Homo sapiens: one gene and its partner. The protein of the gene in region 1 interacts with the protein of each later gene in a pairwise test. Each region holds a gene or a part of one and is shown on either strand. Other genes may lie near its edges.

Region 1 (3,912 bases):
TCTGTAATCCCAGCACTTTGGGAGGCCAAGGCAGGTGGGTCACCTGAGGTCAGTAGTTCAAGACCAGCCTGGCCAACATGGCAAAACCCCATCTCTGCTAAAAATACAAAAATTAGCCAGGCGTGGTTGTGTGTGCCTATAGTCCCAGCTACTCAGGAGGCTTGAACTCGGGAGGTAGAGGTTGCAGTGAGCCAACATCACGCCATTGCACTCTAGCCTGGGTGACAGAGTGAGACCCTGTCTCACGAAAAAGAAAAAAACAAAAACAAAAAACAAAAAATTATCACGAAGAGCTTACTGTTGATTTGGTATGAAATTTAATCTGGAAGATGGTTTTTTGTTGTTTTTTACATTTTTGGTAAACAGTGGCACTTATTTGAAACTCTAAAAGTTTACAAATAGCCATTTTATTTTTACTACATCATTACTCTCTTTGGTAACTCTGGTTCCCATAATGTTGGTAATTTAAGTACTTTTTAAGGTTATATTCTGGACTGACAAAAATAGGTAATCAGAGGTGTCTTTTTTTACAGAGGACTGCTCAATCACAGTGGAAATACCAGGGCTTTATTGAACTTGGACTTAGCATAATACCTGCATACTGTTGTTGTTTTTGGGTTTTTTTTTGTTTTTGTTTTTGTTTTTTTTTTTGAGACGGAGGCTCATACTGTCGCCTGTGCTGGAGTACAGTGGCACAATCCTGACTCACAACAACCTCCACCTCTCGGGTTCAAGTGATTCTCCTGCCTCAGCCTCCTGAGTACCTGGGCTTATAGGCGCCTGCCACCACGCCTGGCTAATTTTTTTGTAGTTTTTATTTGAGACGGGGTTTCACTATGTTGGCCAGGCTGGTCTCGAACTCCTGACCTTGTGATCCGCCTGTCTTGGCCTCCTAAAGTGCTGGGATTACAGACGTGAGCCACTGCGCCCAGCCTTAGCTGCATACTGTTTTTCAAGTATATGATGTGAGCATCAAATGAAATGTCCATGAGAACATTTCATAAATTTAAAAAAATACAAGGTTTTATTGTTTTGTAATTATACCTTAGAAACACTATAGTTCATCTCCACTGAAATCATACTTTCTTACTATTTGCAGAATTCTCTATCCTCAAAGTAAATAAATGGGTTTTTTTTTTGTTTTGATACGGAGTTTCGCTCTTGTTGCCCAGGCTGGAGTGCAGTGGCATGATCTCGACTCACTGCAACCTTCGCCTTTTGGGTTCAAGTGATTCTCCTGCGTCAGCCTCCCGAGTAGCTGAGATTACGGGCATGTACCACCACGCCCGGCTAATTTTGTATTTTTGGTAGAGACGGGGTTTCTCCATGTTGGTCAGGCTGGTCTCGAACTCCCAACCTCAGGTGATCCGCCCACCTCAGCCTCCCAAAGTGCTGGGATTACAGGCGTGAGCCACTGCGCCTTGCAATAAATGGTTTATATATCAAGGGTTTATGTAGAAATATGTCCGTTGATGAACACAATAAATGTTTGCTAAAAACTTGTGAGCTAATACTCAGTCATTTCCTTGGATTTGGTGAAAATCCTGCCTTTTTGCACATTCATAGCTTTTTATAAATCGTTCGTTAATGTAAATCAGGAGGTTTATGTTTTAAAATCGTTTTAAAATCCATTTTTGTATTCTCTTCAAGCAGCTGCAGCTACTGGAGGTTCTGTTCTCAATGTTGCTGCCCTGTTGGCATCAGGAACACAAGTAACACCTCAGATAGCCATGGCAGCTCAGATGGCAGCCCTGCAAGCTAAAGCTTTGGCAGAGACAGGAATAGCTGTTCCTAGCTACTATAACCCAGCCGCTGTTAATCCAATGAAATTTGCTGAACAAGAGAAAAAAAGGAAAATGCTTTGGCAGGGCAAGAAAGAAGGGGTAAGTTCTCTTATTCTGCTTTTCTGTCGTTTATTCCTAATTAGTAATTGCTTAGAAAAACAAATTTGGGTTGAAAAATATTACTTTCGGCTTAACTTTGTAAGAACCTGGGGTGGCCAGACGCGGGTGGCTTATGCCTTTAATCCCAGCACTTTGGGATGCCAAGTGAGCGGATCAGTTGAGGTAAGGAGTCCAAGACCAGCCTGGCCAACATGGCAAAACCCTGTCTCTACTGAAAAGAAGATAAAAATCAGCTGGGTGTGGTGGCACACACCTGTAATCCCAGGTGCTTGGGAGGCTGAGGCAGGAGAATCGCTTGAGCCTGGGATGCAGAGCCTACATACAGTGAGCCAAGATCATGCCACTTAGCCAGGCATGGTGGTGGGCACCTGTAATCCCAGCTACTTGGGAGGCTGAAACAGGAGAATCACTTGATCCTGGGAGGCGGAGGTTGCAGTGAGTTTCCAGCGAAACTCCATCTGGAAAAAAAAAAAAAAAATCACGCCACTGCACTTCAGCCTGGGTGAGACCCTGTCTCAAAAAACTTATAATAAGCTATGATAGTCTTATTTGCCAGTTATTAATACTAAAATAAAACATAATTGATTGAAGTCAAGCTTTCAAAGAAAACTAATATTACCATAGAAGTAGTAAGGAAAAGAGGCTACTTGGTTTAGAATTTTTCATAGATTATGAGGTACTTTTTTTTTTTTGACATTATTTGCAATGACAAATGACATTAAATGCAAATGACATGCAGTCGCAAAAATTGCATGTTGAAAAAGGTCTATGACAGGAAAATAATCCATTTTTTTATTTTATTTTTATTATTTTTGAGACAGAGTCTTGCTCTTGTCACCCAGGCTGGAATGCAGTGGTGTGATCTCAGCTCACTGCAACCTCTGCCTCCCAGGTTCAAGCAATTCTCCTGCCTCAGACTCCTGAGACCCTCCTGGGTCTACAGGTGCCCACCACCATGCCAGGCTAGTTTTTTGTATTTTTAGTAGAGACGGGGTTTCACCTAGTCATCCAGGCTAGTCTCGATCCCCTGACCTCAGGTGATTTGCCCACCTCGGCCTTCCAAAGTGCTGGGATTATAGGAGTGAAGCACGGCGCCAACCTCTTGCTTGTATTTCTTTGCTTTGTGGTTTCTTAAGTCTTGAAATAATTAAACTTACATTGATTGAATGCTATCCATGGTGTTTTTTTTTTTAATTTAGACATTGTTGAGAGATTTCATGTCCTAAAAAATATTTAAATTTTACATATTTTAAAGTTCAGTGTTTGTTAACAGGACAAATCCCAATCTGCTGAAATATGGGAAAAATTGAATTTTGGAAACAAGGACCAAAATGTCAAATTTAGGAAATTGATGGGTATTAAGGTGAGTTTCACATGTGCCAGGGGATCTTTGTATTAGCTATTAGCCCTCCTGCACTGTTCTTCCCTCATTTTCTTAGTTCTGGTCTTTACTCAGGTGTCAGCGTTTTTGAGTTCTTTCCCACCACCTTTTGTGAAATAACAAGCAATCCCATTCTGAAACATTTCCATCTCCCCTACCCACTGTCCTCCCTACACACACACTTGGAGAGAGAGAGAGAGACGGGGTTTTGCTCTGCTTGCTCTGTCACTTGGGCTGGAGTACAGTGGTGCAGTCATACCTCACTGCAGCCTTAAACTTCGAGGCTCAAGCAGTCCTTCCACCTCGGCCTCTCAAAGCCCTGGATCACAGTTCTGAGCCACTGCGCCCAGCCTCCATCCCCATTTTCTACTTTACTTTCCTCTGTGGCATTTATACCCTGACATCTTCTACATATTATGTTTTTTCCAACCTACTAAACTGAAGTTAACTTTTGTTACACCCTGCTATATTCCAGACCTAGAAAGAACATTGCCTTGTCCTTTGGAGGTGTTCAATAATGAATGGAAATTAAGTTATTGAGATCAAATACATATCCCAAAAGTATATTTTTGTTTGTTTGTTTTTTGTTTTTAGTATAGACGGGGTTTCACCATGTTGGCCAGGCTA
Region 2 (3,912 bases), on another chromosome or scaffold:
AGCATTACCAATGTGGATGGGGGCTATGCATCCAGCCTCACAATGGGTCAAGGAGTCATTTCACCTTCTGATAGTCATTTGCATACCTACTGTGTGGTCCTTGGTCCCTGGGGTCCCACCTTTTGAGCTCTCAAGAAAGGACAGTGCTTCTTCTTAAAGGACTAGGCTCCCCTTTGCAGGACTGGGAAGAGCACAAAAGGATTCTAGCTAGCACATCATTGAATGCCAAACTGGGCGCAGAGTTACATCTCCAAGAGTTAGATCTCCAAGAGTTAGATCTCCAAGAGTTAGTTACTCCAAGATCAAAGTAACAGCTAATGTTCACTGAGCATTTACTATGTGCCAAGCACTATTCTAAGTGTGTCACCTATAGTATCGCATTTAATCCTCCCAACACTCTTAGGAGATAGGAACCATTATTATCCCATTTTACAGATAAAGAAACTGAGGTAGCTAGAGGTTAAAGAGTTCAGTAAGTTCCCATGGCTAAAAAATCATTGATCCAGGATTTGAACTCATGCAGTCTGCCTTAAGAGCCCACACTTCTAGTCTTTATACAGAGGGTAAGGGTGTCACTCTGCAGTCCACCCCCTTATCCCGCGCCAAAAGGCAGTTCACTCCCTTCATGGACAAAAATCATACAACAAATCTTTTTCCCTGATCAGTTGGGAACTTCTTGAATGTCACTGCTTGTCCATTGTCTGGTGTCTCATCTCTCCAAATTCAAAGCCACTGTGGCCTTACTGACTGTGTGGGGCGTTCAGGGAGGACTCAAGGGCTCTCATCCTGACTCTGCTCACACTGATTTTGCTGGCAAAGAGCTGTGAGACCTCCCAGGGAGTAGGCAGTTTTGCTTTCTATCCATCAGTCCTCCAACTTGCAACCCCATGGCCCTGGGAATAGATCAGTCCTCTTATTTGTTGGCAGGAGCAGGGGAATCTGCTGGGTCCTTGGCCACAGCTACTCCCTTTCCAAAGCCTGCTTCAAAGCTCAGGTCATCTGGCTTCCTTCTGCCTTCTTCCTGCAGACCCTGGAAGTCCCCAAGCCAGGAGGCAGGGGGCTTGCACTGCTTCTGCAGTAGGTTCTGGCTGAGGGCCTTCCTCCCATTCACTCTCCTCAGGTCCTGTCATTTCCTCTCTCCTCTTCTTCCCCCTCCTCCCACTCCCAAGTCCCTGGAAGAAGGAGGAGGGGCATCGGCTGTCTGGAAGGTGGGGAGAAGTCACTTATTTTACTGAGCACCTACTATTTGCGGGGCACTTGCGGGGCCTCCCCCTCCTCTAAGACAGCTCAGACAGCATGACAGTTCAGTGGGGTGGAGAAAGAAAGGAGGTGGGTGCCCGGGGTCAGAAGTCGGGTGGAGAGGCTGGCCCATCCATCTGTCCCCTTCTCCTAAAGAACTGCGGCTGAACCAGCGAGCGGTACCCGGACGACATGTGGGGGAGGGAGGAAACCCGGCCTGGAAGTGGCGGTGGCGGGTCCCCGGGCAAAGGAAAGGCTCAATTGTGCAAAGGCTTCCTGCCCTGCCAGCTCGCGGGTCCGCCACCGAGCAGCCGCCTTTCTGCGGCCAGCCTGGGAGGCGGGACGGGAAGGCGAAGGCAGCAAAGGGTTACGGGAATAGCTTTCCAATGACAAAGTCTGGAAGGGACCCATGCCTCCGCCCCTCTGCGGGTTAAACTGGCACAGTGCAGGGGGAGGAAAGCCAGGGCGATCGGACGGATTCTCTCCTCCTGCCCGCCCCCCGGCCGCCAGGCACTCCCCTCCTGGGCCCGCCGTGGAGGCAGCCGGCGTGTGCCTGGGGCAGCGGGTCACGAGGCTCCGCCCCGGCCGCCGTTCCCGAGGGGACGGCACTTTGTTCAGGATGCCGCCTCCCTCCTCATTGTGGGGCCGGGGCCGGCGGCTGCCCTAGTGCGGGGCCCGAGGCTGGAGTGCGCGGCGGACGCCAAGCCTGGTGCGAGGGGCCGAGGCGGCCTGGGGAGCCCCGGGAAACTTTGTGCTCGCGAGAAGCGGACCCCGCACCCGCGCTGCCCTTGGGGATGCGCGACTCTGCGCGGCTGCGGCGCGGACCCGGAGCCCGGGCGGGCAGGCGCTCCGGTGAGTGGCCGGCGCGGGGCGGTCGCGCGGTCGCGGCGCTGAGGGTCTGGCGCTTCCCGTTTTGCGAGGCTTGGCTGGCAGGTCCTGCGAGGCCGAGACCAAGTCTCGGGGTAGGGGAGGTTGGTGCCCGAGGGAGGCTGTGGGCTGGGCTCGGGAGAGGCGCTGGAATAAATAACAACCAAGATGCTCGCGGCTTCCCGGGAAGGTGTGTGCCCTTTCGACCCCTATGGGACTGACTGCGCGTTTGATTCTAGAGTTGACTCTCCGGGGGGGCTGCCTAACTTCAGTCCCTCTGAGCCTCAGTTTCCTTGTTGTGAAATACCCACAATTTAAAGTGCGTTGAGATCTTATCATGAGACACCAGGTGCTGCGTTCTTATACTCGCACCCACACGGCAAGCACACACCCTACCCGCACCTCTGCCTTTCGTTGAAGCAAGAGTTAACTCCTCCCATCCCAGCAGGAGCCAGAGGAACAGCTGGGGCAGGTGACCTCGCGGGCCGTTCCAGAAAACGTTCCCCGCACCCCCGGGATGCGCCGGGAAGCGCCCTCCCGCCAATCTCCCGGAGGCCGTCCTCTCTGGCGCCCGCCCAGTGCGTCTGGGAGCGGAGAAAGTGGTCCCGGAGGAGAGGGGAGAGAGGAGAACGCAGAAATTGGGTGATCACGGGGAGCTCACCTGAGCGCTCCCGAGGCTTGGGCTCTGGTCCCTGCTAATCCCCAGAGCCGATAAAAACTGGTCATAGGATAAAGAAGCAGCTAAGTTTGCAGCGGGCAGAGGGGAGGCAGGAACTGGAGAGGACGCGAGTGGCGGGTGGCGGGGGCGGTGTGTAGGGGTGACGTCCACCCGGCAGAGAGGGTTCCTTGTCCCCTGGAGCCGAACACAGGAAAATCAGCTGGTGAGTCAATGGGACTTTGTTAGGATAGTCACAGGGCGCAGCTGGCGCCGGCTTAAGGGAAGAGCTGGATCCCCCCTTGATAACATGCTGTTTATCTGGCTTCCTGTTTCAATGATTGGGATACCATTGGCTCGTTCAAATTCAATGCTGAGAAGCCTGTGGGCACGTTCGTTCACTGTGCAAAAGCAGAGGGCTTGCCTGGGTTTTCATCTGTGGGCTAGCTCTTGTTCCCCCTACATGAAGTCCCCGGCAACTCACTTGTAATGGGACTGGAGACTTCGCAAAAAGAATGGCCTCCCCAGGAGGAGGATCTGACGATCTGACACTGCAGAGACCTTGGCTTCCTTTAGGCCAGAGATATATATGATTCCAGCTTGCTTATGACATTTTTTTAAATCCTGCTTTGACTTTTTGTTGGTGTGTCTTTGGGATTGACCTAAGAAGGGAGACAGAGGGAACAGCTCTATGGATTTTGTCTTCTAAGATGAGCTTCCTAGTAGTATGTGCTTTCACCATCAGTTTTTAGGGGAAGTTTTCAATCATCAGTTTGTAGTTCTCTATCTGGCTGTGTTGCTAACCACCTGGATGATCAGAGAGCAAATAATTCCTCATGTCTCTGTCCTGGTTTTCACTTCTGTAAAGTGGAGCCAGGAAAAAATCGCTACGGTTGGAAGAATAAAGAAGGTTTTTCAGATTTGGGCTCCAGCCCCTAGGGTCTATTTCCTGAACTTTCCAGGTGAAAGAGAACACCAGGTGAAAGAGAACACCATTTCCGGGTGAAAGAGAACAGCCCCTGATCTGAACTTCTTCAGCAGTTTATCTGATTTCCCTTGGGGCAGGTCTCACATTCTGCTTTGCATTTTTTGTTTTTGTTGATTGTCAGTGTGCCATGCTTTGTATTTTAGATATTTGGGTGTTTGTGCAC

Evidence for each region.
Region 2: the proteins of RSRC2 (region 1) and NAV1 interact in binary tests that used the Homo sapiens proteins (3 or more experiments, as listed by UniProt).

What each region holds. Positions count from the first base shown.
Region 1 is NC_000012.12:122,506,189-122,510,100, reverse strand, and holds part of RSRC2 (arginine/serine-rich coiled-coil protein 2), read left to right. Parts: intron 1-1,650; coding exon of another isoform or gene 1,651-1,653; coding exon 1,654-1,883; intron 1,884-3,177; coding exon 3,178-3,267; intron 3,268-3,912.
Region 2 is NC_000001.11:201,537,252-201,541,163, forward strand, and holds the start of NAV1 (neuron navigator 1), read left to right. Parts: upstream 1-1,875; 5' UTR 1,876-2,091; intron 2,092-2,767; exon of another isoform or gene 2,768-2,894; intron 2,895-3,912. UniProt on the Homo sapiens protein: May be involved in neuronal migration.